Linked DNA regions of Homo sapiens: regions 1 and 2 are each linked to region 3. Evidence: fine-mapped expression QTL. A gene starts in region 3. Each other region holds a variant in brackets. All regions are shown on one strand. Distances are between the middles of the regions. Region 1 has its middle 17 kb from the start of OR10K2. Region 2 has its middle 19 kb from the start of OR10T2. Region 3 holds the start of CD1E (CD1e molecule).

Region 1 (10,707 bases), 89 kb before region 3:
TAGCATCAGAATCTAGAGTGAGAGACAGGACAGAGACCATATGGAGAGGGCAAAGATGCAGCTGAACAAAACCTGACCATGTGAGCATGGGAGATATAGTAAATGAAGAGAATAACTAAGAGTGTAAACAGCAAAATATTCCTAAAATAGACCTAAACTAGGAAATAGGGAGAAACTGCCTAATGTGTACCTATATATGATGGGTTAAGGTGGAAGAATAAGAGATAGGAGTGAATGAAAGAGTGGAACAGAAAGCCTTGTGGGGATCATACAGAGTAAAGAAGACATTGATCTATTTCCTAAGTCACTGGTGTATAAGCACGCAGTGCAAAGGAAATATTAAAACTAGAACCCAGGTAATTCAAAAGACAAAACCCTAGATGGGAGACTTAAGGTATTTGGGATACAGTTCCTGCCTCATAGCTTATGCAACCTACATCTTGATATTTTACTTCTCTGGGCCTCTGTTTCTTCATTTATAACATGAGGGGGCTTGGCTAGATATTTAACAGCCTGCCTGTATTGACCACTTATGCATCAGGAAATTCATTGTGGGCATTTGGTGCTCACACAAACTTTTTGGCTTATGCTATTATTATTGCCATTTTAGAGATTAAATCATGAGACCCAAAGTGATTTCCCCAACATTGTACATTGGCAGAGCCATGGTCTCAACCTAGGCAGTCTGACTCCAGAGCCTCAGTCCATCCAGCCTCACTATGCTGCCATTCTAACAAATGATCTCAGAGCAAACTGACAGGGAAGTGAATTCAAACAGGATTCAGTCATTGAGAGCTACATAGGGAAGCCTCTCAGGAGATGAATAATGAGTTGAGGTTTTGTAGGAAAGACAAATATTAATTCTGAGGGATAACAAAAGTAGGAAAGAAAATGTAATGTTATGTGTAGAAGCAGAGAGACAAAGTTAGTTATGTTTGATGCTGCAGCCAACCAGCTTGTCTACAGCTGAGGGGCAGATGCGTGACCTAATGTTGAGGACAAACACACCTAAGATGGTGATGAGGACAGAGAAAATTCCAGAAACATTGCCATAAGCTATGTATTAAATAATTCGTTAGAAGGAAAATAAGACCCATAAAGATATATGATCATTTTATTTCAATAACTAAAGGCTAGCTGTCATTCATACAAATAATTTAACATTATTGTGAGTATCTGCAGAGGACAAATCAAGAACAATGGGTGACTATTTCAAGGAGGCATAGTTCAGCTCAGAAGTAGCCAAATAAACTATCTAGCAAGGGAACAACAGCCTGTTTTGGAAGTGAGTGACTTCTTAAAATTTGTCCTTGACTGTGGACGTTGGACAATACTTCCTACATTGCTATAAAGAGGTTCACAGAATTGTATGCAGGTTGAGTTAGAAGATTTCTGATCTTTTTTCCAAAATGAAAATAATCTGATTGTCTAAGTCTGATATGAAGGTTTTAGCATTTATTTGATCTCCAAATCAAACCACAGATCTTCTTACAGATAATGATGAAAGTTCTTCTTAGAACATTATGGAGGCAATGGAGATTGAGGCATAGGCCAGAAGAGTGGAGATCTCAGCCCAAGCCTCATAATGCTCTGAGGTTAATTTGAGCTTTATTAGGTTCTTAATCTCAGATTCCCATGCACTGATGACAAGGGAAACCCCAATATGTGAGCCATCCCAAAGTCTTCACAATTGATCATGGGTAAATAGAATCTGAATACTTTTAAGTAGATTAAAATAGTTCCCTACATCTGAACAAGCATTATTTGAGTTATGTATATGAGAGACTGGGTACATCACTTTTTACTTGTTTTGTTTGTTTTTCTGAATCAGATTTTTATAAGGTATTAGCAAAGATAGGTGATTTTTAAGGACTGTTACTGTCATGTGGGTAAGCAAATGGTTTAATCTTATTGAGCCTCATTTTCTTCTTCCATAAAATGAGAGTACTTAATGAGATGAGGTCTAAATCACATTTTGATTTTACAGTATGAACTTTCTAGGCACATAGGAATACAGAGAATGGAAATAACTTACAAAAATAAAAATAAATAATTTCAGATATCTTTGAATTGGGATATGTCACTATTCATGTCCCTTGACCCTTCCCTATACTCTGATCTATGTACTTAATGTGTGTTATGTATTTTTTCAGACCAGTATTATCAGCTTTTTACAGAAACGCGAAATGAGTATCTCTAGGGTCATTTCACTTTTATCAAATTCTCTCCTTCTCAATTTCAGGTTACCTAAGTCTAATTACACTGACCAATGAAAAGACAGAACCAGAGCATGATCACCGAGTTCATCCTTATAGGCTTCTCAAACCTGGGGGATCTGCAGATCCTTCTCTTCTTTATCTTCCTATTAGTCTACCTGACCACTCTGATGGCCAACACCACCATCATGACAGTCATTCACCTGGACAGGGCTTTGCACACTCCTATGTACTTCTTCCTCTTTGTCCTTTCATGTTCTGAAACCTGCTACACCTTGGTCATTGTACCCAAAATGCTTACCAACCTGCTATCCGCAATTCCAACTATTTCTTTCTCTGGATGTGTGGTCCAGCTCTATTTATTTGTGGGCTTGGCTTGTACCAACTGTTTTCTCATTGCTGTGATGGGCTACGATCGCTATGTTGCCATCTGCAACCCCCTTAACTACACACTCATTGTCAGCTGAGCCACCTGCATGCAGCTGGTTCTAGCCTCCAGCTTTTGTGGCTTCCTGACTTCTGTGATTGTCAATATCCTGGTGTTCAGTGTGCTCCTCTGTGCCTCCAATCGGATCAACCACTTTTTCTGTGACATTTCCCCTGTCATAAAACTGGGCTGCACAGACACCAACCTGAAGGAGATGGTCATCTTTTTCCTCAGCATTCTGGTATTGCTGGTTCCCCTTGTGTTGATATTCATCTCCTACATCTTCATAGTTTCCACCATCCTCAAGATCTCCTCAGTGGAAGGACAGTGCAAAGCCTTCGCCACCTGTGCTTCCCACCTCACAGTGGTCGTCGTCCACTATGGCTGTGCTTCCTTTATCTACTTGAGGCCCACATCCCTGTACTCTTCAGATAAGGACCGGCTCGTGGCAGTGACTTATACTGTGATTACTCCACTACTCAACCCCCTTGTCTATACACTGAGAAATAAAGAAGTAAAGATGGCTCTGAGAAAGGTTCTGGGTAGATGCTTAAATTCCAAAACTGTATGAGTGGGCTGATAAGGCAGTAAATTACATTCATGAAAGTTTCCTAGGTAGCACTTCAGATCTATAAACAGATTCGTCCTTTTCTTAAGACTCCTTGACAAAAAAAAAAAAAAAAAAGAGAGAGAGAGAGAAAAGAAAAGAAATAAGGACTTTAGGTGACCTTGATTGTTTATATCAAAAAATTTTTTTCATGTTAGCCTGTATCCACTGCAAAAGTTATACCAATTGGTCTCCAGAAAATTATGTGAACATTGAAACTTTCAATAACACAAGCTACATTGTTTTTATGCATTACAAGTGTTTGCTTTGTCAGATCAAAACTACAAATGCTGCATTATCTTTTTGAGAATTCCCAGATTGTTGATACTCCTTTTACAGTGAAAGAAACAACATATTCTAGAAATAATTTACTGCAGTTATTTCTTTATTAAACTTATATATACATACACATACCTACATATGTGTGTATATATATATGAATGTATATATATATACATGTGTGTGTATATTTATATAAAGTTTAACCCACTTCCCATTTAGGAAAAAAAAAAGTGCAGTTCTGTGCCATTATGGAATTCTCAGGGCAAACGGGAAATGGGTTAAAGCAAATGGTTTAATCTTTTTGAGCCTCATTTTGTTCTTCCATAAAATGACAATATTCAATGAGATGAGCTCACATCATAGTTTGACTTTACTGTACAAACCTTCTTTGCACATAGTAATACAAAGAATATAAATAACTTGCAAAAATAAAGATAAATTACTTCAGTTATCTTTAAATTGGGGTATGTCACTATTCATGTCTCCTGATTCTTCTCTATCCCCTGATCTACATATGCATATATATACACACATATATTATATATATATATATGTTTAAAAAGAAATATATGCAGTAAATTGTTTCTAAATAATGAACATAAATTTGCTTCTGGAAAAATGAGGGGGGTGGTGGTAAAGTTCTAAGAGGTCGATGATAGAATAGAAAACACAGACTTTGGAGTCACAAAGACCTGGATTTTAATCTTTATTTGGATCATTTTCCAGCTAAGCCCCTTGTGCCAGGTTTAACTTCTTTTATTTTTAGTTATTTATTATGTAACAAAGGACCTTTAATACCTCCTCAGTGGGCCACTGCAAAATCTAGTTAAATTAATAGATGTAAAACAATTCCATGCTTGCCTGAGAGAAGGTATTGAAAAATTGCTTCTGTTTTTACTTCTCTTTCATTTTCCTTTCTTTATTCTATAATCTAGGGTTAGACTCTATGTCAGATAAAGTGTAAAAGTAAGTTGACCATTCAAGAGCCCTGCACTGTTTATGCACCTGCTACCATATGCAAGGCATTGAAACAAGCACTGTAGTGAGTACAATGAAGAGTAAAGCACAGTCCCTTCTTTTCCTCATGCCTCACTGAAAGAAAGGGTCAAATTTTAGTCACCCAATATAGGTGCATCATATACATTTGAATGAGTTTACTGTGGCTTTTGCTAAAGCTGTGTTTCAATAAAACAATGGAATTATGTTAATATCAAAAAAATTTCATTTCTTAGCTTTTCACTTGAGCAACATGCAGTTTAATAACTCTTGCTTGGGAAATAGATTATGTGGATTTAGAAGGAGGTTTCTTCACATACTTGTAAGTATGAAACAATAACTTAAACACCATACATTGAAAGTGATCAAAATAGGGTTGCTGTAAGAATTAAATGGGGAAATTCCTTAATTAACACACAGTTTGAAACGTATGTATTTGATATATTTTAATTATTATTTGTATGCTATATGTAATGTTGAGAGATAAAGAAAGACATTAGAATGCAGAATATAAGGAGAAGGAAGAAGAAAAAAAGCTAGGATTGAAAGAAGGGAGAAAAAGAAAACAAATAAATAAAAGAGTGATAGAAGCCTTAGTTGAATTTACTAAATGCTAACATGATTTTTTTTTACTACCTGGAAAAAAATGCTACCTTTAGCATTTTTTACGTGCCACACCCAATAGTTTGGCAATGAGTGTCCCAAGGATAAAACTGAGTTGCTAATGTATTCTTAGTTTATCGGAATATGATTATTAAAACCTCCTTAGGACATTTCTTTGATTAAGACAGCTAAATTAGGACACGATCATTTATTTTAGATTTTTTTTAATTCAAGGATTTGAGCTTTGTTTGTTGACACCACCCATTGATGAGAGTAGTTTGGGGTTTCTGTGATTGTTTCTACTATAGGAAAGGTTAAGCTGAAGAGAGTGAGAGGCAACTTTCATCTTCATTCCCTGTCACCTCAGAATTCCCAGAACACCACTTTTCCTCAAGTCCACCTACTCAACACACACCCAGACAAACACACATCTGTAAAATGTACTTCCCTCTGATTTGCATATGATATATATACTTCTTTGTTTGCTACAGATGTGAGAGTGTTCATAAATTTGTTTTAAACCCTGAATGCTTAGATGGCTTGCCATTTTTTTCAGAGAATAACACAACTGGTACTGAATTTGCATTTGAGGATGACCATGATGGTGATGGTGATATTAATGATAGCTACACCTGGCGTATACTAGGCTTTCAAAATCATTTTTAAATTAATAAATGAAAATAAATGTTGGGTAATCCAAGGTTCTCTAATTTATCTGTAGATAAAAATTATCACAAAACTGAATGGACTTTTTTCTGCATCTTTAATGGTTCTTTTAATACTGATTTAATTTAATAGTGATTGAAGACTTATTCTAAAGCAGGTAGGGTGTCCTGTGCCTGTTCTCCCAGTTACTCCAGAGGCTCAAACAGGAAAGGTTGCTTGAGCCCAGAAGTTCAAGGCCAGCCTGGGCAACACA[T/G]TACGATCCATCTCTAAAAAAGGAAGACAGAAAATACTTATTCTATGTTCTAATATAGTCTATGTTCTTCTTCATTTATTTATCTAACAATTACCTACTTGGCATGTATCACTCACTAGACACGGTGAGAGTAAATAAGACAAAGAAAGGAAAAATATTGCAGACAAATAGAGACAATTACATTGCGGTGTAATAAATAATTAACTGTGATTCAGAGGCTGAATATAGTATAAGGACCTAACTGAATTGTGGAGAATCGAGAAAGACTTCTCAGAGTAAGTGACACTTAAATTTAAACTTGAAAAACAAGTAAAAACTAAGAAGTTAAAGAGTGTTTCAGGCACTTTGCATTGTGTACACAGATGCAAAGAAAGAACTCATCGCCTAGATGAGTAAATTTAAGTGTCTCATGTGCCTGAAAATAGACCTCTGGAGTGACAGAAGTTAATAAAGTTAAGGCAGAAAATGTAAACCTATTGGGAAGAGCTTTTGTAGGTTAAGTTAAAGAGGTCAGATTGGGCCAGGTGCCATGGCTCACGCCTGAAATCTCAGCATGTCGGAAGGCGGAGGTGGGTGGATCACTTGAGCCCAGGAGTTTGAGACCAGGTTGGGCAACATGGAGAAACCCTGTCTGTAGAAAGAATGTGGTGGCACATGCATGTAATCCCAGCTACTGGGTGGCAATGAGGAGGAAGGATCACGTGGTTCCAGGAGGTCGAGGCGGCAGTGAGCTGAGAAGGCACCACTGCATTCCAGCCTGGGTGATAGAGACGCTGTCTCAAAAACAAAACAAAACAAAACAGGTCAGATTGAATTCATTGATGTGAAAAAGTAGGTTTTATCCAACTGTGGCTTGGCTTAATATATTTTACATGTTAAAGTTACCATATATATAAAACAAAAAAAAGAAAAATAGATTGACTTTTTGATGATTGCTAGATGCATCAACAGATAGATGGATGATAGGCCATACAGTGGATAGGTACAGATTATAAATTCTATATAGAATATTATTGTATCAATACATGCAGAAAAATATCTCTAATTTAAACATGCAAATATAACTGAGAAAACATAAAACTGAAAATAGTAGAAACTGTCTTAATTTGAGAGTATCTTTGAAAATCTATAATAAATAAACTTACTGATGAAATAGAGGAAATTTTTTCATTAATATCAGCAATGAGACAATAGTGCCCATTATCTCTGCTTCTATTCAATATTTTATTAGAGTTATTTCTTAATATAAGGAAAACACACAAAAGAGTAGTAGTTTGTTTGTAACATAGAAATTACCTAATAATATTCTGATTGTTTTCTTCTTCTTCTTTTTTTTTTTTTTTTTTTTGTTTGAAGACAGAGTTTCACTCTTGATGCCCAGACTGGAGTGCAATGGCGCAATCTCAGTTCACAGCAACTTCCCCCTCCCAGGTTCAAGTGATTCTCCTGCCTCAGCCTCCCAAGTAACTGGGATTACAGGTGCCTGACACCACACCAAGCTTATTTTTGTATTTTTAGTAGAGACCAGGTTTCACCATGTTGGCCTGGATGGTCTCAAACTCCTGACCTCAGGTGATCCACCCACCTTGGCCTCCCAAAGTGCTGGGATTACTGGTGTGAGCCACCACACCCCACCGCTGATTGTTTTCTTTGCTGTTCAGAAACCATTTAGTTCCATGTAGTCCCAGTTTCTTATTTTTGCTTTCATTGTCTTTACTTTTGGTATCGTATCCAAAATACCACTGCCATAGCCAATGTCATGGAACTTTTCCCTATCTTTTCTTCTAGAAGTTTTACAGTTTATGCCCTTAATTAAGTCTGACATTTAAGCCTTTAATCAATTTTGAGTTGATTTTTTGTGTATAGTATAAAAGTCAGTTTTCATTATTTTGCATGTGGAGATCTCATATTCCTAGCACCATTTTTTGAAGAGACTGCCCTTTCCCCATTGTGTATTCTTCACACCCTTGACAAAGATCAATTAACCACAGATGTCTGGATTTATTTCTGGGCTTTCTATTGTGTTTCAGTGATGAATGTGTCTGCTTTTATGAGAGTACCACACAGTTTTGACTACTATAGCTTTATAATATAAATGGAAATCAGGAAGAGTGATTCTTCCAGCTTTGTTCTTTTTGCTCAAGATTTCTTTAGCTATTTAGAATCTTTTTCTGGTTCCATATAAATTTTAGAATTCTTTTTCTATTTCTGTGAAAAATGCCATTGGAATTTTGATAACAGTTTCATTGAATCTGTAGATCACTTTGGGTAATATGGACATTTTGACAATATTAATTCTTCCAGTCCATAAGCATAGGATGTCTTTCCATTTGTTTTTTCTTCCTCAATTTTTTCCATCAATGTTTTATACATTTCAGTTTATAGATTTTTAATCTCCTTAAATTTATTTTTAAATATTGCATTCTTCTTATGGCATTTTTAATTTTTTTCTCAGATAGTTTGCTGTTAATATACAGAAATGCAACTGATTTTTAACATTTCTTTTTTCTTAATTTTAGATAAATGTAGTACATGTGCAGGTTTGTTACATGAGTATACTGTGTGATGCTGAGCTTTGGAGTACAGATCCCATCACCCAGCTAGTGAGCATAGTAATCAATAGGAAGTTTTTAAACTCATGACCCCCCTTTTCACTTCCTCCTCTAGTAGTTTACAGTGAATATTGATCCCATGTTTGGATATGTAGCTCTCAGTGAATATTGTTCCATGTTATGTCCATGTGTGTTCAATATTTTAGCTCCCACTTATAAGAGAGAACATGCAGTATTTGGTTTTCTGTTCCTAAATTAATTTGCTTAGGATTATGACTTCTAGCTGCATCTATGTTGTTGCAAAGGACATCTATCATGCAAAGGATATTATTTCCTTCTATTTGTGGCTGCATAGCATTCTATGGTGTATATGTACCACATTTTCTTTATCCAGTTCAACACTGATAGACATTTAGGTTTAGTCCATGTCTTTGCTATTGTGAATAGCATGGCAATGAACATGCAAGTTCATGTGTCTTTTTGGTAGAATGACTTACATATGTCGATTTTGTACCTTGCAACTTTACTGAATTCATTTTTTGATATTAATAGTTTTCTGGTGAAGTTTTTATTTTCTAGATATAATACTATGTAATTTTCAAACAGAAATAATTTTACTTCTTTATTTCTGATTTGGATGACTTTTATTGCTTTTCCTTCCGTAATTGCTCTGGCTAAGACTTTCAGCACTAGGTTGAGTAGAACTGACGAGAGTGGACATCCTTGTCTTGTTCCAGATTTAGAAGAAAAGGTTTTATTATGCAGTATAATGTTAGCTGTGAGCTTGCCATATATGACCTATATTGTACTAAGGTACATTTCTTCTATCCTTAATTTGTTAAGGACACAGAAAAAGAAATACTCAACAAGATGAAAAGGCAAACTACAGAAGGAGAAAACATATTTGTAATCCATAAATCTGATACAGGGTTAATATCCAAAATACATAAGGAACTCATATCGCTCTACAGAAATACAAATAAACAATGTCATTTTAAAATGGCTAAAGGATCTGAGTAGACATATTTTTCCAAAGAAGACAAACAAATGGCCAAAAGGTATATGAAATGGTGTTCAACATGACTAATCAGGGAAATGCAGATGACCACAATGATATGTTACCTCACGCCTGTTAGAATGGCTATTGTCAAAAAATCAAAAGATAACAAGTGTTGGAAAGAATGCAAAAAAAAGGGAACCCCTGTATATTGTTAGTGGCAAAGTAAATTGGTATAGCCATTAAAGAAAACAGTATAGAATGTCCTCAAAAAATTAAAAATAAAACCACCATATGATGTAGCAGTACCACTTCTGAGTATATATCCAATGAAAATAAAATCACTATCTCAAAGAGAGATCGGAATTCCCATGTTCATTGCAACATTATTTACAATAGTTAAGATATGAAACAATGAAATGTCCTTCAATAGACAAAGGGCTAAAGTAGATGTGGTATATACTTTTATACAATAGAATACCATTCAGCCTTTAAAAAGAAGGAAATTCTGCCATTTACAACAACGTGGATGAACCTAGAGGACATTTTGCTAAGTACAATAAATCAAGCAAAGAAAGATAAATACTGCATGATCTAACTTATATGTGGAATCTAAAATATTCAAACTTATAAGAGCAGAGTAGAAGGGTGGTTGCTAGAGGCAAGGAGGTGGGGGAAATGAGAACATTTTGGTCAAAAGTTACGAACTTTCAGTTATAAGATACATAAGCTTTAGATATTTTAATGTACAGAATGTTGACTACGGTCAATAATGTATTTTATACTTGAAAAGTTGTTGACAGTAAGTATTCTCACCACACACACATGAAAAAAAGGTAACTATGTGAGGTGACAGGTATATTGATTAGTTTGATTGTACCAATTATTGAAAAATGTATTTGTATATCAAAACTTCACATTGGATATGAAATATATATATATATAATTTCTGTCAATTGTACCTTAATAAATACATAAACAGTACAGAGATACAAAAACAAAATTACATGAGAATAGGCAGATAAATATAAGAATTAAAAATGAAATGTATTTACATGATTGCCTTATACAAAGCTGGTAATACAAAAATAAATTCTATTTCTGTATG
Region 2 (10,707 bases), 26 kb before region 3:
ACAAATTCAACTCCAAAATTATCTCAGGTTTTTTCTTCTGAAAGTTCAGTATTTCCTTTAGAATATTTTTCTATGAATAAAGTTAAATTTTAGGAATTTAGGTAGCACTATATTTCCCCTGGCCACGCCAGAATGGGATGTCATTGAATACTATAAAGCACAGATTCCTGATGCTCTTCACTGCTTGACGTTCCATTTTTTATATTGCCATTTCTTTGCAGTATCCTTTGTACCTTACAGAGTAACTTTGCTCACTATGTCTTCTTTTTCAAATTAGGCTTAACATTTTCAAGTAGCACCTACACACAAGCACACACATACACTGGTCACCTGAAATTTAGGGAAGTCAGTCTTTTTATAACATTAAATTCAGTCATCCAAAAATGTGAACCATTTTTTCCATTTAAGATATTTTTATATGACAATAATTATTTAATAGTGATTAAAAAATATTTATTAAATTAATCTCTAGATAATTTATAGTTTGTATTGCTACTTTTTGTAATATCCATATTGGATTTTACTTTCTATTAATAGTTAATTACATAAAGAAATGCACTTCACTTTTGTTTGTTCATTTAGTGTCCAACAAATTTACTGAATTATTTTAGTGCCAATAGTTTATCCACTACTTGTATTTGACAACTTTCAAATGACGATACTGTCCTATAATAATGAACATTTTAATTTCTCTTCAAATCTTTATATTTCACTTGTTTTTCTTGTCTCCAAATATTTCATAGGATTTTCAATGGTATATTAGAGTTAATAGTAAAATAATAACCATTCTTGTCTAGTTCTTAATATTGAATGATAGGTATATAAAGAATCTTTAATAAATATGGCCTTTTCTATAAGTTTTTGTTTATAACATTTACCAATGATAAGAAAATTCGATTCTAATTTGCATTTGTTTAAAGTTCTTTTTTAAAATAACTCTGTGTTATAATGTATCAGGGCTTAGATTTCTAGTTGGTCCTAAAATGTCCCATTTATTATCTTTCTTAGTAAAGGAAATCCTCAATTTTTAATGGGCAAATGATTAACCTAAATAAAGATACTCCCCAGCTCCTTTGCAGCTAGAATGTAACTAAGATGTCTTGTAAGTGTGGAATGTAAGTGAAAATGTCATATGCCCCAGAAAATGTCTTTAAAGTGGTGGCGGTGGGGGAATAATATTTATCTTCTCTACCTCCCTAACTAAAATGTGGATGTGATGGCCAAAACACCAGTGGTCTCTTTTAAACCATGAGAAGGAATTCACATGTTAAGTCTCTCAGAAAATAAAATATCATAAACCTGAGCCCTAAAAATGTCATAAAGCTGTCCTACAAGTTATAAACTGCCCCTCTCTGAATGTATCTTTTTCATGGAAGGAAATGGACACATATTTTGTTTAAGTCAATATATGTAAATTTTCTATTATGTTCTCTGTTTAAAGGGTTCTCTCCAGGCAGATATGACAATATAGTATCCTTGATAGTCAGTCAAACTCTGGTCAGGTTAGAAGACAGAGCCTGTTATATAGTAAAATATGGAACTAAAATAATCCTAAGCCTTGGGCAGTATTCTGAAGGATGTTAGGTTCCTGGGCTTCTCTAATTCTCCTACAGCATCCCACAAGTATGAGTAGATATCTTTAGACTTCAGACTTTGATATACCTGTGATTTCACATATTAAAAATTATTTCAAGCATCTTTGATGCAGAACAATGTATTATCTAGTATAGATTTAGGTAGCAATATTTAAAGTTCTTGCCATTTCCTAATCTTCCTCTTGAATGGGAGCTCCTCAATAGGGTGTTTAAAAATGCTAACTAACAGCTGCTGGAAGTATTCCTTAATAGAATGATTGACTTGGTGAACAGCTGTCTCTATGTTGTAAATTCAAGATTAATTTACAAATACGATGTGCTACGTAAAATATTTTAAAGTAAATTTCAAACAATACTACACTAAATATAACAACAGGATATATTTTAAATAAATTATATGACAATAAAGTAGAATATCATACACTCACTAAACACAAAGGAGAAGAAAAATTCTTCAAAATATTGCACAGGTAATACCTTTTAATTTTCTTCAGATACATTTTTATTGTAAATCAATCTTAATTTGCACCTACCCAAATATTGAATAATCACATCTGCTTATTAAGTAGACGGGCGGAATTCACCCAGAAGAAAGGGATCTTTGTCTAACTTTGAGAGTCCAACTACTCTTTTGAATTGCTAGCAATAATACATAAAATTCAAATTCATTCATTTTAAATGTAAAGATCAAATTTTCACAAGTGGATACAGTCATGTAACCAACACCACATTCAAGATATTTCAATTTCATCACTCCAAAAGTTTCCATGCACACTTAGCACTCAAACCTTTCCCCCATCCATGACCCCAGGCAAGCACTAATCTTCTGTCACTATAACATGTCTTTTTTTATAATTTCATATAAATAAAAATATGCATTGCAGTATAGAAATACATTATGCAGTCTTGTGTCTGAGTTATTTCACTTAGCATAATGCTCTTGTTAGTCATCCATTTTGTTGAGTATATTAATAGCGTTTTTTCCCCCATCTTTTTATGGCTGAGAAGTACTCTATTGTATGATTATGACACAATTTATTTCTGAATTCACCAGTCAAAGGACATTTGGATTGCTCCCAGTTTGGGGCTCTTATAAATAAGGCTGCTGAGAATATTCACATACAAGTCTTTGTGAAGAAAATTGTCTTTATTTCTCTTAAGTAAATAACTAGGAATGAGATTACTAGGTTACATGTATTCACATTTACAATAAATCAATCAATAACGTACTAGGTATGTTTAACTTTGTAAAATACTACCAAACTGTTTTCAAAACTGTTTCAAAAATAGCTGTACCGTTTTGCAATTTTATCAGTGATGTACAAAAGCTCCTTTTGTTCCACATCCTCTTCAACACTTGGTGCTTCAATAGACTGAATTTTTGTCTCTTCCCAAAGTTTGTATTTTGAAATCCTAACCTTCAATGTGATGGTGTTAGGAGCTGGGGCCTTTGGGAGGGAATTAGGTCGTAAGAGTGGAGCCCTCATTAACAAGATTAGTGTCCTTATAAAGGGGACCACCAGAGCCCCTCTCACGTAGTATTACACTATGTGAAGATACTACAAGAAGATGGCAGTCTGCAGCAAAGAAGAGGACCCTCACCAGAACCTGACTAGGCTGCTACTCGGATCTGGAAATTCCAGTCTCTAGAACTCTGGGAGATAAATTTCTATATTTTGTAAGCCACCCAGTATTTGATTATTTGTTGTAGCAGCCTGCACTAAGACAGTACTTTCAGGGTTTTTTTATTATTATTATTTTAAGCATTCTAGCGGTTGTGTAGTAATGCCTCATTGTGGTTTCAATTAGCATTTGACTAATGATGATGAGCATCTTTTCATGAACTTATGAGCCACTTACATATCTTCTTTGATAAAAAGTGTATTCAAATATTTTGCTCTGTTTTTGTTATTGAATTGTTTTTCCTGTTATCGAGATATAGGAGTTTTTTAAAGAATATTCCTCGGCCACTAATCCTTTATGAGATATATATGTTTTACAAATATTTTCTCCCCATCCCTGCTCTGCATTTTCTGCTTCTCAATAGTGTTTTCTGAAGATCAAATTTTAATGGCTCTTATTTTTTTGTGTACTATCTAAAAAAATCTTTGCTTAACTCAGTCACTCGAATTTTTCTATGTTTTCCTTTAGAAAGTTTATAATTTCATCTATTACCCTTAAGTCTATGACTCATCTTAATTTTCTTTACGCTTCTATCGTTTTGGAAAACATTGTGATGAATTAGCATTATTTCTTCTTATACATTTAGTAGAATTCAACAATAAAGCCATCTGGACATATAGTTTCATTGTGTTAGGTATTTCAATTATAAATTCACGTTTTTCAAAGATATATAAGGTTATGTAGATTATCTATATATTTTTGAGTGACTCTAGGTTGTTTCTTTTAATAAATTTCTTTAATCTAAGTTGCTGAACTTACCAGCATAAAGTTGTTTTATTACTTTTATCATATTTATGAAATCTGCATGAATAGTACAATCTCCTCCCTTTCATTCCTGATATTAGTAACTTGTGTCTTCTCTTTTTTGCCTGGATAGAGATGTAACTGTATTAATGATTTTTCAAAAGAGTTATCTTTTGATTTAAATAATTCTTTTCTAATTTTTTACATCTTTAACTCATTTATTTCCCCTGTTGTTATTTTTTTCTTTCCACTTGTTTTGGATTTAATATGTTCTTCTTTTTTCCAGTTATTTAAGGTAGAAGCTTAGCTTATTAATTTTACACATTGCTTTTTAAAATTTTAATTATTTAAAGCTATAATTTGTGCTCTGTGCATTGCATTAACTGCATCTCACAAATTGTATATGTTGTATTTTCAATTTCTTCTAACTCAAAATACTTTCCAGTTTTTATTTTAATTTTCTTTGACTCAGCGGTTATTTGCATTTCCAAATATATGGAGTTTTCCAGAACATTTCCTATTTTTGTGTTCTTGCTTAATTGTATTATGGTGACAGAACATTCTTCATATGATTTCAATCCTTTTAAATATATTAAGGTTTGTTTAATGACTCGGAATATAGACTTTCTTGGTGATGTTCCTTGTGCTATTGAAAAGATTATGCTTTCTGCTGTTGTTAGATTGAAGGTTTATGTCAACTAGGTCAAGTTGGTTGGTAATGTGGTTCAGGTCTCTAGATCTCAGAGATTTCTTATCTCCTTTCTGTAATCCCTCTACAATTTCTAACAAAACATTTGGCACCCAATCAGAAGCAACAACTGGATTATTAGAGATTAACCCAGTATCTTGACAGTAAAAACATTGCATGGCTTTTTTACCGCAGCATAAATACCACATGTTCATAGGGCCTGTATTTCTACTCTCAGAAAAATGAAAGGGTTTTTTTTTTTGTTTGTATTTGTTTGTAAGATAAAGATAATGTACCAGGTGGCCTTATTTTATGAATAAGCAAATAAAGACCTACAGAGAGTTATACTATTTCTTAAAACAAGACCAAGGTGAGGACCAAATAAACAGTTTTCTTTTATTCCAAATGATCACCTTTTAAATGGAAAGTTGAGAATCCCTACCCCTAATTCAAAATTAAGCAGCCCTCAA[CAATGTTTTCAAAG/G]AAGAACACATATATAAGTCTACATTTCTGGCACGGTTCACTTCAAACATTTACTAATTTCAGGCAAATTTAGATAGAGAAATTAAGAGAGAAAGCTGTTATGTTTTCCGAATCAAGATGATAGGCAACTTTCTATGAGATAAAAATTATTTTAGAATAAAGTTCCATGTAGCTAAGAGATTAATCCAGACACGAAAAGTTTATTTCCTGGGTGAGGGATACACTGATTGGGCGATGATTATTTTAGAATTGTAAATCTAGCCACCATATTTTTTGTTTCTACATATGTATGAGGTACATGTGAAATTTTGTTACATGTATAGAATGCATAGTAATCAAGTCCATTGATGGATGTTTAGGTTGATTCCATATCTTAGCTATTGTGAATAATGCTGCAATAAACATGCAAGTTCAGGTATCCCTTTGACATATTAGTTTCTATTCCTCTGAGTAGATACCCAGTAGTGGGATTTCTAGGTCAAACAGTAATTTTATTTTTATTTTTTGAGAAATCTTCATATTGTTTTCATAGTGTGCGTGCTAGTTTACATTCCCACCAGCAGTATATGAGAGTTCCTTTTTTTCCATATCTTTGTCAACATCTGTTTTTGTTTATTTGTTTGTTTTACTTTTTAATAATAGCCATTCTGAATGGGATAAGATTGTGTCCATTACGGTTTTGATTTGCATTTATCTGGTGATTAGTGACATTGAGCATTTTTTTCAAATCATATTAGCCATTTGTATGGTCTTCTGTATTTTGGGCAGCCTCTATTTGATTTTATTTTGCTTTAATCTCTATTATTTTTGTTCTGCTAATTTAGGGTTTAATTAGATCTCTTTTGGTTCTTTGTGTTGTGTTGCTTGATTAATTTGTAATATTTCTACTCTTTTGATTTAGACATTTCTTGCTATAAACTTCTCTCAACACTACTTTTGCTGTCCCCCACAGGTTTTGTATTTAGGGTGTTGATCACCTGAATATAAAACATTTTTATAGCATTTTTGTTACAAAAATGTTAAGTATAAGCACTCTACCCTGCCATCAAACATTGAATTTGTTTCTTCTATCTTACTGTTATGTTTGCACCCTTTAGAACTCCTCCCTTTATCCTGCTTCTTCCTCCAGCTCACCCTTCCTAGTCTCTCATCAATCTTTCCCCTCTCCATCTCAATGTGATCAAATTTTTTAGTGATATAAGTGATATAAGTGATAACATGTGATATTTGTCTTTTTGTGCCTGAATTATTTCACTTAGGATGATCTCCAGTTCCATCCATCTTGCTGCAAATGACATAATATCATTCTTTTTCAGGGCCAAACAGTATTCCATTTTGTGTATACATATCACATTTTCTTTATCCATTCATCCATTGATGGATGTTTAGGTTGATTCCATATCTTAGCTATTGTGAATAATGCTGCAAGAAACATGCAAGTTCATGTATCCCTTTGATATATTGGTTTCTATTCCTCTGGGTAGATACCCATAGTGGGATTTCTAGATCGAACAGTAATTCTATTGTTATTTTTTGAGAAATCTTCATATTGTTTTCATAGCTCGAGTGCTAGTTTACATTCCCACCAGCAGTATATGAGAGTTCCTTTTTCTCCATATCTTTGTCAACATCTGTTTTTTATTTGTTTGTTTTACTTCTTAATAATAGCAATTCTGAATGGGATAAGATTGTGTCCACTGCGGTTTTGATTTGCATTTTTCTGGTGATTGGTGATGTTAAACTTTTTTTTCAAATCCTGTTACCCATTTGTATGTCTTCTTTTGAAAAATGTCTATTCATGTTCTTTGCCCACTTTTTCATGAGATTATTTTCTTTTGCCTGTTGAGTTGTTTGAGTTCCTTGTATATTCTGGATATTAGTCCCCTGCCAGATGAGTAGATTGCAAATATTTTCTCCCATTTAACAGATTGTCTCTACACTTTGTTATTTCTTTTTCTATGCAGAATCTCTTTAGTTTAATATAGTCCCATGTGTCTATTTTTATTTTTGTCACCTGTGCATTTAAGGTCTTAGTGATAAATTATTTGCCTAAACCAATGTACAGGAGAGTTTTCTCTAGTATTTTTATAGTTTTGGGGTTTATGTTTAAGTCTTTAATCCCCATCTTGAGTTGTTTTAATAAGATGAGAGACAGTGATCCAGTTTTATTTTTCCACATGTGGCTATCCAATTTTCTCAGCACCATTTATTGAATAGGGTGTCTTTTCCCCAATGTAAGTTCTTGTCAGGTTTGTAGAAGATTAGTTTGCTATTAACATATGCCTTTAGTTCTGAGTTTTTTTATTAGCTCCACTGGTCTGTGTTTATATATTTATAAAAATTTCATGCTGTTTTTCATTATGATAGCCTTGTGATACATTTTGAAGTCACATAATGTGATGCCTCCAGTCAGGCTTGCTTCAGCAATTTAGGCTCTTTTTTGGATCCATATGAATGTTAGGATTGTTTTCTCTGATACTATAAAGAATGACATTTGTATTTTCACAAAGATTGCATTGAATCTGTAGATTATTTGGGGCAATATGGTTATTTTAAGGATATTAATCCTTCTGATATGTGAAAATAGGATATTTTTCAATTTGTTTGTGTCACCTACAATTTCTTTCATTAGCGTTTTAGAGTTTTCACTGTAGAGATCTTTCACCTTCTTGGCTAAAGTTATTTGTTAAGTATTTCATTGTTTTTCTAGCTATTGTAAATGGGGTGGCTTTCTTGATTTCTTTCTTGGTTAAATCATTATTGGTGCATAGAAATGCTACTAATTTCATATCTTCATTTTGTATCCTGCGTTATTACTGAATGTATTTACCAAACTAATGAGTTTCTTGGTGGAGTCTTTAAGTTTTTCCAGATATAAGATCATATTAAGAGCAAAGAGAAACAATTTGACTTCCTCTTTTCCATTTTGAATACCTTTTACTTCTTTTCCTTGCCTGATTTTCTCTGGCTAGGGCCTCTAGTACTACGTTGAATAGGAGTTGTGAAAATGGGCATCATTGTCTTGTTCAAGTTCTTGGAATGTTTTCAACTTTTCTTCATTCAATATGATGTTACCTGTGAGTTTGTCATATACGGCTTTTATTATTTTGGGGTAGTTCCTTCTATGCTTGGTTTGTAGAGAGTTTCTATCATAAAAGAGTGTTGAATTTTATCATATGATTTCTCTGTATCTACTGGGATGATTGTATGGTTTTCAGTTTGTTGATATGTTGTATCATGTTTATTCAGTTGTGTATGTTGAACTAACTTTGCATCTCTGATATAAATCCCACTTGATAGCAGTGGAATTTATTACCCACTTTTGATTACCTTTTGGATGTGCTATTGAGTTTTGTTTGCTAGTTTTGTTCTTGAGAATTTTTATGACTATGTTCATTAGAGATATTGGTCTATAGTTTTGTTTTTTGTTGTATCCTTTTCTAGTTTGGGTATCAGGGAGATGCTGGCCTCATTGAATGACTAGGGAGAATTCTCTCCTCTTCAATTTTTTGGAATAATGGCAGAAATTGGTTTTAGTTCTTCTTTTTACATTTGGCACAATTCAGCTGCGAATCCATGCAATTCAGTTTTTCTTTGTTGGAAGATCTTTTATTCCTGATTCAATCTACTACTCATTATTGATCTACTCTGGTTTACTATTTCTTCCTGATTCAATCTCAGTTGCCTGTGTATTTCCAGGAATTCTCTATTTCCTCTAGGTTTTCCTGTTTGTCAGCATATAGATGTTCATAATAATCTCTGATGATCTTTTGTATTTTTGTGATATTCATTTTAATGTCTCCATTTTCATTTTTGATTTTGTTTCTTTGAATCTTCTCTCTTCTTTTCCTGGTTAGTCTATCTAGTGGTTTACCCATTTTGCTTATCTTTTCAAAGAAGCAATTTTTCATTTCATTGGTCTTCTGTATTTTGGGCAGCCTCTATTTGATTTTATTTTGCTTTAATCTCTATTATTTTTGTTCTGCTAATTTGGGGTTTAATTAGATCTTTTTTAGTTCTCTGTGTTGTGTTGCTTGATTAATTTGTAATATTTCTACTCTTTTGATTTGGACATTTCTTGCTATAAACTTCCCTCAATACTACTTTTGCTGTGCCCCACAGGTTTTGGTATGTTCTGTTTCCATTTTCAGTTATTTCAAGAAATTTTTTTATTTCCATGTTAATTTATTCATTGACCCAGTGGTCATTCAGGAGCATGTTCTTTAATTTTCGTGTATTTGTATAGTTTCCAAAGCTTATCTTAGTATTGATTTCTGGTTTCATTCCAACGTGGCATGAGAAGATGCTTGATATAATTTTGATTATTTTTAATTTGTTGAGACTTGTTTTGTGGTCTAATATATGGTCTACCATGGAGAATATTCCATGTGCTAATGAAAAGAACCTGTATTCTGCAGCAGTCAGGTGACCTGTTCTGTAAACATCTCTTAGGCCCATTGGCCTAAAGTCTGATGTAAAGCTATTGTTTCTTTGTTGATTTTCTTGCTATATGATATATTTAATGCTGAGAGTCAGGGGTTGAAGTTTTCACTATTATTGTATTGCACTAAATCTCTCCCTTCTGATTTAGTAATATTGGCTTTATGGATCTGGGTGATCCAATGTTGCATGCACATATTTTCAAAATTGTTATATCTTCTTGCTGGATTGATTATCATTATATTATTTGTCTTTTTCTAGTGTTCTTGACTAAAAGTTTGTTTTACTGGATATAAGAATACCTTCTCCTACTAGTATTTGGTTTCCATTTGTGTGGCTTATCTTTTTACATTCTTTTAGTTTCTATCTTTATGTGTATTTACCAGTAAGGTGAGATTTTTGTAAGCAGCATATAATTGGATTATGTAATTTTATCCATTTAGCCATTCTATATCTCATAAGTGTAGAATTTAATCTATTTAAATTCAAAATTATCATTGACATGTGAGGCTTTATTCCTGTCACATTATAAATTATTTTCTGGTGGTTTGTATATTCTTCATTCCTTTATTTTTTCCTTGTTTGTCATTGTGGTTTGGTGGATTTCTAGATTGGTACCGTTTGAGTCCTTTCTCTTCCTCTTTTGTATGATTGCTTTACCAGTGTATTTTATACTTTTGTGTGTTTTCATGATGGTAAATGTGCTCCTTTCACTTCCAGGTTTAGTACTCAGTTGAGCATTTTTTTTTTTTGTTAACTTGTTATAGGCTTTAATCCCTGGAGCATTTCTTATAGGACATGCCTAGTGTTAACAAATTTTCCTCAATATTTGCTTTTCTAGGAAAGAGTATTTCTCCTTCATTTATGCAGAATAATTTTGCTTGGTATAGTTTCCCTGGCTGGCATGGTTTTTCTTTTTTTCTTTCACACTTTGTATTCTCTTCTGACCTGTGAGATTTCTGCTCATAAATCTACTGTTAACCTGACAGTGAGAGGTGACAGCGTGCTGGCAGTCCTTACAGCACTCGCTCGCTCTTGGCGCCTCCTCTGCCTGGGCTCCCAATTTGGCAGCAC
Region 3 (10,707 bases):
TTTCAGCCAGAATGAAGTTGTTAATAGTATTAGGTAACATCTCTGTCTTGGGGGCAATTTAGCAACATATTTTGCTCCTAAGTACACCATCATCCAGGAGTTATAATGAAAATACCCAGCCCAAAGGTTTACCACAGTACAGGGAAGACCTAGAGCTTTTCTGACACTATTATGGACTGATATTTAAACTTCCTCAAGTCCTGTTGAGCTGATACTTCTTATAACATGATTATTTGTCCTCTGGCTCTTTTTTTAATCCTTCTATGTCATTTTATGGGGAAGAAGGATGTATATGTGCAGGCAGCCCAGATCTATTGTCTCCAGAGGTATAGCTTGTGCCTTTCGCACACCTTGTGCCAAAAACGGAAAGGTTCCTACTTGAACCTCTTCATTCTAATAGAGGTCCTCCCCTGTAGAGTTATACCACGTGATGGAACCCTGACCCCTTTCATCATTTGTTGCTCCAAACAACCCTTTAAGATTCTACCTTCCTCTCCCGATTCTAGTGGCCTGACTCTAGATAGACTGATTGGATGTGCCATATGGAAGGTGATGGACTCTCAACAGTGAAAAGGCTGGCCTCATACCTTGTTCATGAGTAAGAGTGCAGCCTGGATGTGTGATCATGGGACCCTTGCTGATTACTTGAAAATGCCCAGCATGAAGTTTATAACTTCCACTAAAAAATCTGCACAACCGGCTGGGCGCGGTGGCTCACGCCTGTAATCCCAGCACTTTGGGAGGCCAAGGGGGGTGGATCACGAGGTCAGGAGATCAAGACCATCCTGGCTAACATGGCGAAACCCCGTCTCTACTAAAAATTAAAAAAAAAATAGCCGGGAGTGGTGACAGGCGCCTGTAGTCCCAGCTACTGGGGAGGCTGAGGCAGGAGAACGGCATGAACCCCGGAGGTGGAGCTTGCAGTGATCTGACACCAGCCACTGCACTCCAGCCTGGCCAACAGATCGAGACTCCATCTCAAAAAAAAAGAAAAGAAATATGCACAATCTGCTCAATTATTCCATCCAAGGGAGGGGTTGACTGGACATGTATATAAACACTGCACTTCTACCAGATTCCTGCTCTCCAGTAGGCTCAACCAAATGTATCTCAAATGAAGTAAATTATGTAAATGTAAGAATCCATATAAAAACTAAAGAAAAACAAACTGTAAATAATAATAACAATAATAAGCCACACTAATAAATAAAAACAAGCATGTAGCTTAACTGGCATCCAATCACTCTTTTGCTTCATTGCCTTAGCTCTGGCTCAAACCCTATGTCCTCCTTCTAATTGCTCAAAATATGAATTTCTCCCATGAATATGCACATCCACAAAGACACACATAGATACACATGGCTCAGGGAAGTAGGAATGCCAGTTCAAACCTCTCCTCACTTTGACAGGAGATAGCCCTTATGTTATTATTTTCCTAAATATCCCTGAAGATTCATTAACATTCCAATCACTGTGGAGTCTGAGGCATTCATCTGCCTCCTTCACCTCTGGTGAGAGACAAAGGGAGAGAGGAAGAGTTTTAGCAAGAGCACAGTCAAATGACGCAGAGATATCAGAGAGGGAATGGAGTAAAACAACATCACTTGATCTAACAACAAATTTATTTCAGTCAGCATTTATTGAGAAATATTACATTCACACTGAATCAGCTATATAATTTGTGGGGTCAGTGAAAAATGAAAATACAATATCTCTTGTTTGAAAATGACTAAGGATTCCAAGATGACAACAGCAGAGCATTAAATCTAGCATGGGTTCTTGCAGAGCATACGATTCCATGTGTCTGCACAGGTCACATGCTTATGAAGCTGGCCCTGAATTCAGATAAGATTTTTGGTCATGAATACAGACACAAATACCTAAATCCTACTTTCAAGCAACTGAGATTAAAAAAAAAAAAAGAGCAAAAACCTAAATAACTACTGTTCAGAGTAGGAAGAGATGAATGTGCTTGTGAAGATCAGTTCAATTTGGGGAGTACAGAAGAGCTATCAATTGGGTGATCTCGGGAATCCATGAAAAAGAAGTATCTGGATTATAGTTTCAAAAATAAACAATGATGGATATGTAGCCAAAGCAGGAAAAAAAAAATCTCTGGAAGATGGGGAAAAAGTATTCCTAAAGGGGTCAGTATCTTTGCTAGTATAAACTGTTTAAATAAAAGCATGCTTCCCTTATGGGACATGGACGGTGTTTAAGAAGATGCAGACAAGGATTTTATGTATAAGGTAAAGCAAATGTCACCAGAGTTGGTTTAGGCGTGTCTTCCACTTCTTCAATACTCTGTTTTTGATCCACGATACTTGTGCCAAGCAGAACTGATGTCTTGAATTCTTGGTGTCCTGAGTGTTGGCTCCCATGAGAAAGACAGGGCTGGGTGTGTGGGGAGAAAGAATGTTCTTATTTGAACTGTGGGAAAAGAGGAGGATATTAATCTCAAAGAAAGGAAATAAAGGGGAAAGGCAGAGAAAAAAAAAAAGAAGATAGAGGAAAAAGGAATGAATTGATTACAGGCTGAAGAAACAAAGAACAAGAAAAAGCTCACCTCTGTTTTTTTAACCGTGAGTCAACTACAACCAATATGACCAGGGTAACTATCACAGTCAAACAGATCAGGATGAGAAAGATGGAATATCCACCTGGTTGGGGATAGAATAAGAATACCAACCCTAAAATACTCTATTCCACCAAGCTGAGATTTCCCATTTCACAAGGGTGGGACCTTCCTAGAATTTTCATCTGGGTTTTCCAAAGCCCTCATTTCAATTCCTCCTGATCCTTTGTCTGTGATCTCCTCCCAACCCTCTCCCACTAAATCACTAGTTCCTCCTCCTTTTTCTGTTAGTATGTCTAATTCTCTACTTCCATTTTCTTAAAATTTAACTACTGTCATACTCTATCCTTCTTTATTTTGATTGTCCCAGTTTTACCCTTCTTGTACCTAGCATTCCTACCCATTTCCTCAGCCCCACACTCAAAAGCCCCAGGGCTATTTTCATTATTTCCCAGCAGAGCCTCAGCTGTTTCTCACCCCAATGGATGATTAGATCATGGCCCCCTAGACTGCTGTGTTTCACCCGACAGGACAGGCCAGCTGCCTCCCCAGCCGCCACATCCAGGGTTGCTCGGAGATACCATGTCTCGTCAGCATTAGGCAGGACGTCCCCTCGCTGAGTGCCCCGCTGCTCCTGCTCACCCCGCATCCACATCACCCACACGGGCTTTGGGTAGAATCCTGAGACATGGCACACAAGCTGCAGACGGCCAGGGCCAGGACTGGGGCCACAGGACAGCCAGGCCTCTGGCTTCACTAGGAAGAAGAAGATAGAAAAAAAATGGAATTTTGAAGGGCACCCCAGGCCAGAGCTCAGAGACTCAGGTGCCTTTGTAATAATACTAAGAGTGATTTAGTAATCACTTCTTTCTCTTGTCTAAGAAACAGTCCTGAACCCACACATCTCATTCTCTAGTCTCTCACTATGTCTTTCAAAATGATGATGAGAGGCAAATTCAAATATGAGAGTTATAGTACTAGGAACAAGAGGGGAGAGAGAGAGTTGGGCTCACCTTTCCGTTTCAGTTCTGACTCCCCTGCTTCCATGAGCCCCGCTAGAAATCGAGGGCAGGTGTGACCAAGAAGGCTTTGCAGTATTTCCTTAATATCTAGGTAGCGATTGAGCACTTTACAGATGTTCTGGGCCCGGATCCCTGCTCCTGGAGATGGCTCCCAGGAAATTCCTTGGAAACTCAGGAAATCTGACCCTTGATATGCCATATTTAAGAAGATTTGTGGGGCATTCATTCTACAGCCAGCTAATATCTGGATCTCGAAGGGGTCTGAGAGTGGACAGGGAAGAGAGATCATTATGGAAAGAATGACAAGGAAGAAAAACAAACAATTTAGACAGTAAAGAGATTCAAGGGAAGAAAAATTTGCTGGGAAATCATATGGAGACTAGAGTTTACTGGCAAAGGGGAAGAAAATTTGTGGGAAGAAAATTTGAAGATAATAAAGATACTTTGAAATAACTAATGGGAAAGTGGTAGATGGGAAGGCTATCAGGAAGATAGGAGATTGGTCATAAATAATTCACGTGAAAGTGGTTAGGTACAGGCCAGTCCATGTCAACACTCAGGCAAAGGATAAAGAAGGGCAGAAAGAGGGTTGAGAAAGGCTGAGTCTGAGGGCAGGAATGAGGGGCAGAAGATCCAGAGGAGACAATCATTCCAAAGAGCCAGACATGAAGCTATATTCATGTTGAGATATGTACATGCAGGCCCTTTTGTGTATATGGTGGAGTGTGGGTGGTGGTGAAGGGTGAAGCAGAGGAGGGAGTGGGAGTCAGAGAGTGGGGAACAAGGTTAGTAAGGTTAAATGATGGTCAGAGTCTATATACTATCTTCCACTTTGGAAAATAGTTGGTGTTCCCAGGCAAATTATCAGCTTAGAGCAACGAACTTACATTCAAGCTGAAATTGACCAGCAGAAGCTTGCACTATCTGGATAAAACTATGGAAGTATAACTGGAACAGTGACTGTAAGTTTTTCAGCTCCTGCTTGCTGAAGTTTCCATGGGACCAGGGCTTCAGAAAGCGGATGGTGCCCAAGACAGTGTCCCAGCCATGAGTCTGCAGGTCACCCAGCCATCCTGAGCCCTCACTGTGTGCCCAGCTGTGGTTGGCAAAGGAGGAAGTTTGGAGCATGCGGAAGGACAGCTGCTCCTCTGCTGCTAGATGATAGGATTGTAGAGCCTGGGGAGCTGAGAGAGAGGGAAATGACAAGTAGAGAGAATGTAAAGGGATGGGAAAAGTGATGCCAAAGGGAAAAAAGGAACCCAGAGATGAGAGACAGTTAGGTAGCTTGTACATACTCCAATACCCTTTTCCTGTGGGGCCAGCTTCCTTTCTCCAAAATCAGAGACAAAAACTGAGACTGAGAGCAAGAATTCTCTGCCTGGAACTAGCCTGAAAGGCATATTCCAAGGGCATCCTAGAAGAGTACTGCTCCCTTCCCCCAGGACCTCCCCAGAGCTTCCTCTCAGCCCTCTGGTGCCCTACCATAGGTATCTTTCCACCTGCACTCTTCTTACCTGCTGTATTTTCCCCAGGACAGCAGAGACCCTCGAAGAGGAGGAACAGGAGCAGCATTGAAGCTCTGTTAAAGGAGGGATTCCTTGGCAGGACACCTGCCCTAATAATTCAGATATCAGTACCCCTCTCCACACCCTCTTGCACTCTCGTCTGACTTCCCTTGCTGTACAGACAGACAAACCTCTCCCTCTGCTGACTTCCCTGTCAGAGAAGCCACACTGCCTCGCTTTGCTGCAGCCTCCCACGGGGTTTTTCATTTCCCCTCTGCCTCTCTCACTGTCTGGCTCCAGATTTTCTCCCTGCTCTTGTGTACATCCTCCCAACCTCCCTAATTGCACTAACTGCTGGAAAACGAGTCCTGGCTTAAAACAAAGTCTGTGGTCTGGCTAGAAGATGGAGTAGCTTTTGGCCTTGTAGAAATCAAATCCATACTTGGCTTGTCAATAATCTAATCTGTGAGAAGTGATGGTAGTCACTCAGTGGTGCCTAGTGACCTATCCACCAGTCTCCCACTTCTACCTCTCTGTGATCCTCTCCTCCGCCTGTATCTCTTCACTCTGCTCTTGATCATGATCAGAAGACACTCAGCATCCTGGATGTAGCTGCATAATAAGCAGGCAACCCTCCATAATCCAACTCTCTGTGCTGCTGAAAAAGGAGCAGCAATGGCAATGCAGATTATCAGAAAATCTAAAGAAAGCTCCTTTTTTTCAGTTTCCCCAGTCAAGCCAACTGTCACTGTTAAAGTGGTCCATGAGTGGGCTTGACCTGGAAGTGGTGAGCTAGAGGGCAGGTAGATTTCACCCATGTTTTACAGGTGGCTCTGGAGGAAATACATAGGGGACTTGGATCCCCATCTCTACCCAAACGAAGAAAGCATGTCTGGAAGTCTGTGGGCCAGCTTTGCCCTGGGTATGAAGAAAGACTGAGGGCAGGCATGAAGCTCCTCATTAGTTCATGGCCTGAGAGCATTGGAGTCCCCTTGCTTGCGTTCGGTTAGAGAGCAGTTTGGGTGGACACAGGGAAGTACCTTTAGAGGACTGAAGTGTTCACTGGAGAATTAATTGAGTCTTTATTTTTGTTTCTTTTTCATTGATATTTGTTGTGACACTCTGAAGGCAGTTGAAATAACATTCCTTTGTTTGGTTTTTATATATTTGTTCAACTGACATTTATTCAGAGCCCACCTATGACCAAAAACAATTGCCAGGCCCTAAGATATCAGAGATAGACATCTTTGGGAAAAAATAAAACAAAATTCAACCCCAAACCTCTACTTTTCTTATACAGTAAATTTACTGAACGGTGGTCAGAATTATTGAAAAAGGTCCAAACCTAGTTTCATCTTATTATCATTTCTAAATTCTAAGTTAAAAGAAAGATAAAAAGTTTCCTTGTTTCCTGAGTAGAATATCTACATTTATTTTCAATACTCTTTCTGTGCTGGAGAGGTGCTGGAGAGGATGTGGAGAAATAGGAACACTTTTACACTGTTGGTGGGACTGTAAACTAGTTCAACCATTGTGGAAGTCAGGGTGGCGATTCCTCAGGGATCTAGAACTAGAAATACCATTTGACCCAGCCATCCCATTACTGGGTATATACACAAAGGATTATAAATCATGTTGCTATAAAGACACATGCACACGTATGTTTATTGTGGCACTATTCACAATAACAAAGACTTGGAACCAACCCAAATGTCCAACAATGATAGACTGGATTAAGAAAATGTGGCACATATACACCATGAAATACTATGCAGCCATAAAAAATGATGAGTTCATGTCCTTTGTAGGGACATGGATGAAGCTGGAAACCATCATTCTCAGCAAACTATCACAAGGACAAAAAACCAAACACCGCATGTTCTCACTCATAGGTGGGAATTGAACAATGAGAACACATGGACACAGGAAGAGGAACATCACACACCGGGGCCTGTTGTGGGGTGGGGGGAGGGGGGAGGGATAGCATTAAGAGATATACCTAATGTAAATGACGAGTTAATGGGTGCAGCACACCAACACGACACATGTATACATATGTAACAAACCTTCACGTTGTGCACATGTACCCTAGAACTTAAAGTATAATAATAAAAAATAAATAAATAAATAAAAATAATTAAAAAAAGAAAAAAAAACTGCAAACAAAAAAACAAAAGAAAAAGGTCCAAACCTAGTTTCATCTTATTATCATTTCTAAATTCTAAGGTTAAAGAAAGATTAAAAAAAGTTTCCTTGTTTCCTGAGTAGAATGTCTACATTTATTTTCAATACTCTTTCTTTTCTACAAATACATTCAAAGCTATAAGTTGCTATGTAAATCTATCTATAAATCGCTATGTAAATCCAAAATTGGTTTCATAATAAAATTATGAACAGTAAACAAAGATAAATATTCAAGAGAATATATAATAACCTACAAAAACAATAATACATAATAAAAAGATTGGAATGACCTATGCCAAACATCAATACTACAAGTAACTGTATTCCTTAGAATTTTTGTTTTGTTTTGTTTTTTCCTGAGACGGAGTCTTGCTGTCTTGCTCTGTTGCCCAGGCTGCAGTGCAGCCACAGGATCTCGGCTCATTGCAACCCCCGAATCCCTGGTTCAAACGACTCTCCTGCCTCAGCCTCCTGAGCAGCTGGGATTACAGGCAAGAGCCACCATGACCATCTATTTTTTGTATTTTTAGTAGAGACAGGGTTTCTTCATGTTGACCAAGACGGTCTCGATCTCCTGACCTCGTGATCCACCCGCCTCGGCCTCCCAAAGTGCTGAGATTACAGGCGTGAGCAACCGTGCCCCGGCCATTAGAATTTTTGAATCAGGCCAGGCACGGTGGCTCACACCCGTAATCCCAGCACTTTGGGAAGCCAAGGCAGGCGAATTCGAGACCAGCCTTGCCAACATGGCGAAACCCTGTCTCTACCAAAAAAAGTAAAAATTAGCCAGGTGCCATGATGTGTGCCTGTAATTCCAGCTACTCAGGAGGCTGAGGCAGGAGAATTGCTTGAGCCTAGGAGGTGGAGATTGCAGGGAACTGAGATTGTGCCACTGTACTACATCCTGGGCAGGAGAGTGTGACTCTGTTTCAAAAAAAAAAAAAAGAGGGAGAATTTTAAAATCATTTGCAAAGTAAAATAAAGCAAAGTATATTTAGAGAATAAAACAATGTTGTTATTCCACAAAAAATTGCACTTTTATGTAAGTAAAGATAACCACACCCTAGTTTTTAATTTTGAGGCTACAGAACTCACAGATAACTGCAAATTACTGAGCAAAGTAGAAATAATGTCTGACAGCAACCCCATAATCATTAACAAAATAATGAAATTCCTTCTAAATTAAAATTATCCAGAAGATAAATTCCAAAGAAAAAATATATATTAATTTTAATTTTTGTAACATTATATGGTACAATTATTTCCTTCCTGCTTTACAAAATTCCATCAGTGGGCCAGGCACAGTGGCTCACTCCTGTAATCCCAGCACTTTGGGAGGCCGAGGCAGGCAGATCAGGAGGTCAGGAGATCGAGACCATCCTGGCTAACACGGTGAAACCCCTCTCTACTAAAAATACAAAAAAATTAGCAGGGCGTGGTGGCACGTGCCTATGGTCCCAGCTATTCGAGAAGCTGAGGCAAGAGAATCGCTTGAACCTGGGAGGCAGAGGTTGCAGTGAGCCAAGATTGTGCCACTGCACTCCAGCCTGGGCAACAGAGAAAGACTCCGTCTCAAAAAAAAAAAAAAAAAAAATATTCCATCAGTGCCTAACCACATTTTTTACTAAAAATACTTAGTGTCTGTGGCCAGAGGTCTCTTTTAAAAAGAAATTCCCCCTCTTATGTTTTCCTGAGGCTGCCCCAGTCACATTCGCAGATCCCCTTTTGCCAAAACCAGAAAATTCTCTCAAAACATATTATAAGATGTGCCTTTGGACAACTTAATCTTTCTATGTAAGAAATTTATGGGAGATAACTCATTAAAATTGATTTAAAATAAAATTTTTGAGTACATTTGTACAAATGTAAGAAAATGTTCCATCTGCTAATTTTTTTTCAAAGAATTTAAATACGAGTTTTATTCTTTTGGCTTATTTTCAGGAAAGATTGCAATTTCTACATACTTATTTTCTTGTTTGTGTATACTTACATTTCTTTAACATTTATTCAAATATATTTTTCAGCTTTAGTGAGGTACAACCAACAAATAAAAATTGAGTATAAAAAAGTATTTATTGCCACTGAGCTGTACATTTTAAAATGGTGAAGATGATAAATTATATATTTATATTCTACCTTAATTTTTTTTAAATTGGGTATACTTAAGGTGCACAACATGATGTTATGATATATGTATATACTGTGAAGTAATCGCCACAGTCAAGTTATTACCATATCCATCACTTCACATAGTTACATTTTTTCTTTTTTTTTTCTTTTTGAGACGGATTCTCACTCTGTCACCCAGGCTGGAGTGCAGTGGCATTGAGAGGTGACAGCGTGCTGGCAGTCCTCACAGACCTTGCTTGCTCTCGGTGCCTCCTCTGCCTGGGCTCCCACTTTGGCAGCACTTGAGAAGCCTTTCAGCCCGCCGCTGCACTGTAGGAGCCCCTTTCTGGGCTGGCCAAGGCCGGAGCCGGCTCCCTCAGCTTGCAGGGAGGTGTGGAGGGAGAGGCGCGAGCGGGAACCTGGGCTGCGGGCGGTTCCAGCTGGAGTGCAGGGTGGGCGTGGGCTTGGCGGGCCTGCACTCGGAGCAGCCAGCCGGCCCTGCCGGCCCCGAGCAATGAGAGACTTAGCACCCGGGCCAGCGGCTGCGGAGGGTGTACTGGATCCCCCAGCAGTGCCAGCCCACCAGCGCTGTGCTTGATTTCTCACCAGGCCTTAGCTGCCTCCCCGTGGGGCAGGGCTCGGGACCTGCAGCCCGCCATGCCTGAGACTCCCACCCCCTCCATGGGCTCCTGTGCGGCCGGAGCCTCCCCGATGAGCGCAGCCCCCTGCTCCACGGCGCCCAGTCCCATCAACCACCCAAGGGCTGAGGAGTGCGGGTTCACGGCGGGGGACTGGCAGGCAGCTCCATCTGCAGCCCCAGTGCAGGATCCACTAGGTGAAGCCAGCTGGGATCCTGAGTCTGGTGGGAACGTGGAGAATCTTTATGTCTAGCTCAGGGATTGTAAATACACCAATTGGCATTCTGTCTCTAGCTCAAGGTTTGTAAACACACCAATCAGCACCCTGTGTCTAGCTCAGGGTTTGTGAATGCACCAATGAACACTCTGTATCTAGCTACTCTGGTGGGGCCTTGGAGAACCTTTGTGTCCACACTCTGTATCTAGCTAATCTGGTGGGGACGTGGAGAACATTTGTGTCTAGCTCAGGGATTGTAAACTCGCCAATCAGCACCCTGTCAAAACAGACTACTTGGCTCTACCAATCAGCAGGATGTGGGTGGGGCCAGATAAAAGAATAAAAGCAGGCTGCCCCCAGCTAGCAGTGGCAACCCGCTGGGGTCCCCTTCCACACTGTGGAAGCTTTGTTCTTTCGCTCTTTGCAATAAATCTTGCTACTGCTCACTCTTTGGGTC

Evidence for each region. PIP is the estimated chance that this variant, and not a neighbour inherited with it, causes the effect. A credible set is the group of variants that fine-mapping cannot tell apart.
Region 1: its variant is the best candidate, but not a certain one, in a credible set for the expression of CD1E in whole blood (INTERVAL, PIP 0.68).
Region 2: its variant is the best candidate, but not a certain one, in a credible set for the expression of CD1E in T cells (TOPMed, PIP 0.51).

The regions. Positions count from the first base shown.
Region 1 is chr1:158,437,577-158,448,283 of GRCh38, reverse strand. It overlaps the pseudogene OR10T1P. Among named protein-coding and RNA genes, the nearest start is that of OR10K2, 17 kb to the right of the region's middle. The variant T/G (reference allele first, on the strand shown) is at 6,051.
Region 2 is chr1:158,374,633-158,385,339 of GRCh38, reverse strand. No RefSeq gene overlaps it. Among named protein-coding and RNA genes, the nearest start is that of OR10T2, 19 kb to the left of the region's middle. The variant CAATGTTTTCAAAG/G (reference allele first, on the strand shown) is at 5,181.
Region 3 is chr1:158,348,451-158,359,157 of GRCh38, reverse strand. It overlaps CD1E (CD1e molecule), which reads right to left and starts at 5,264. Exons shown (of 6, transcript NM_030893.4): 1 at 5,112-5,264; 2 at 4,485-4,781; 3 at 3,589-3,858; 4 at 3,053-3,331; 5 at 2,567-2,660; 6 at 1,605-2,430. The coding sequence starts at 5,169. The coding sequence ends at 2,262.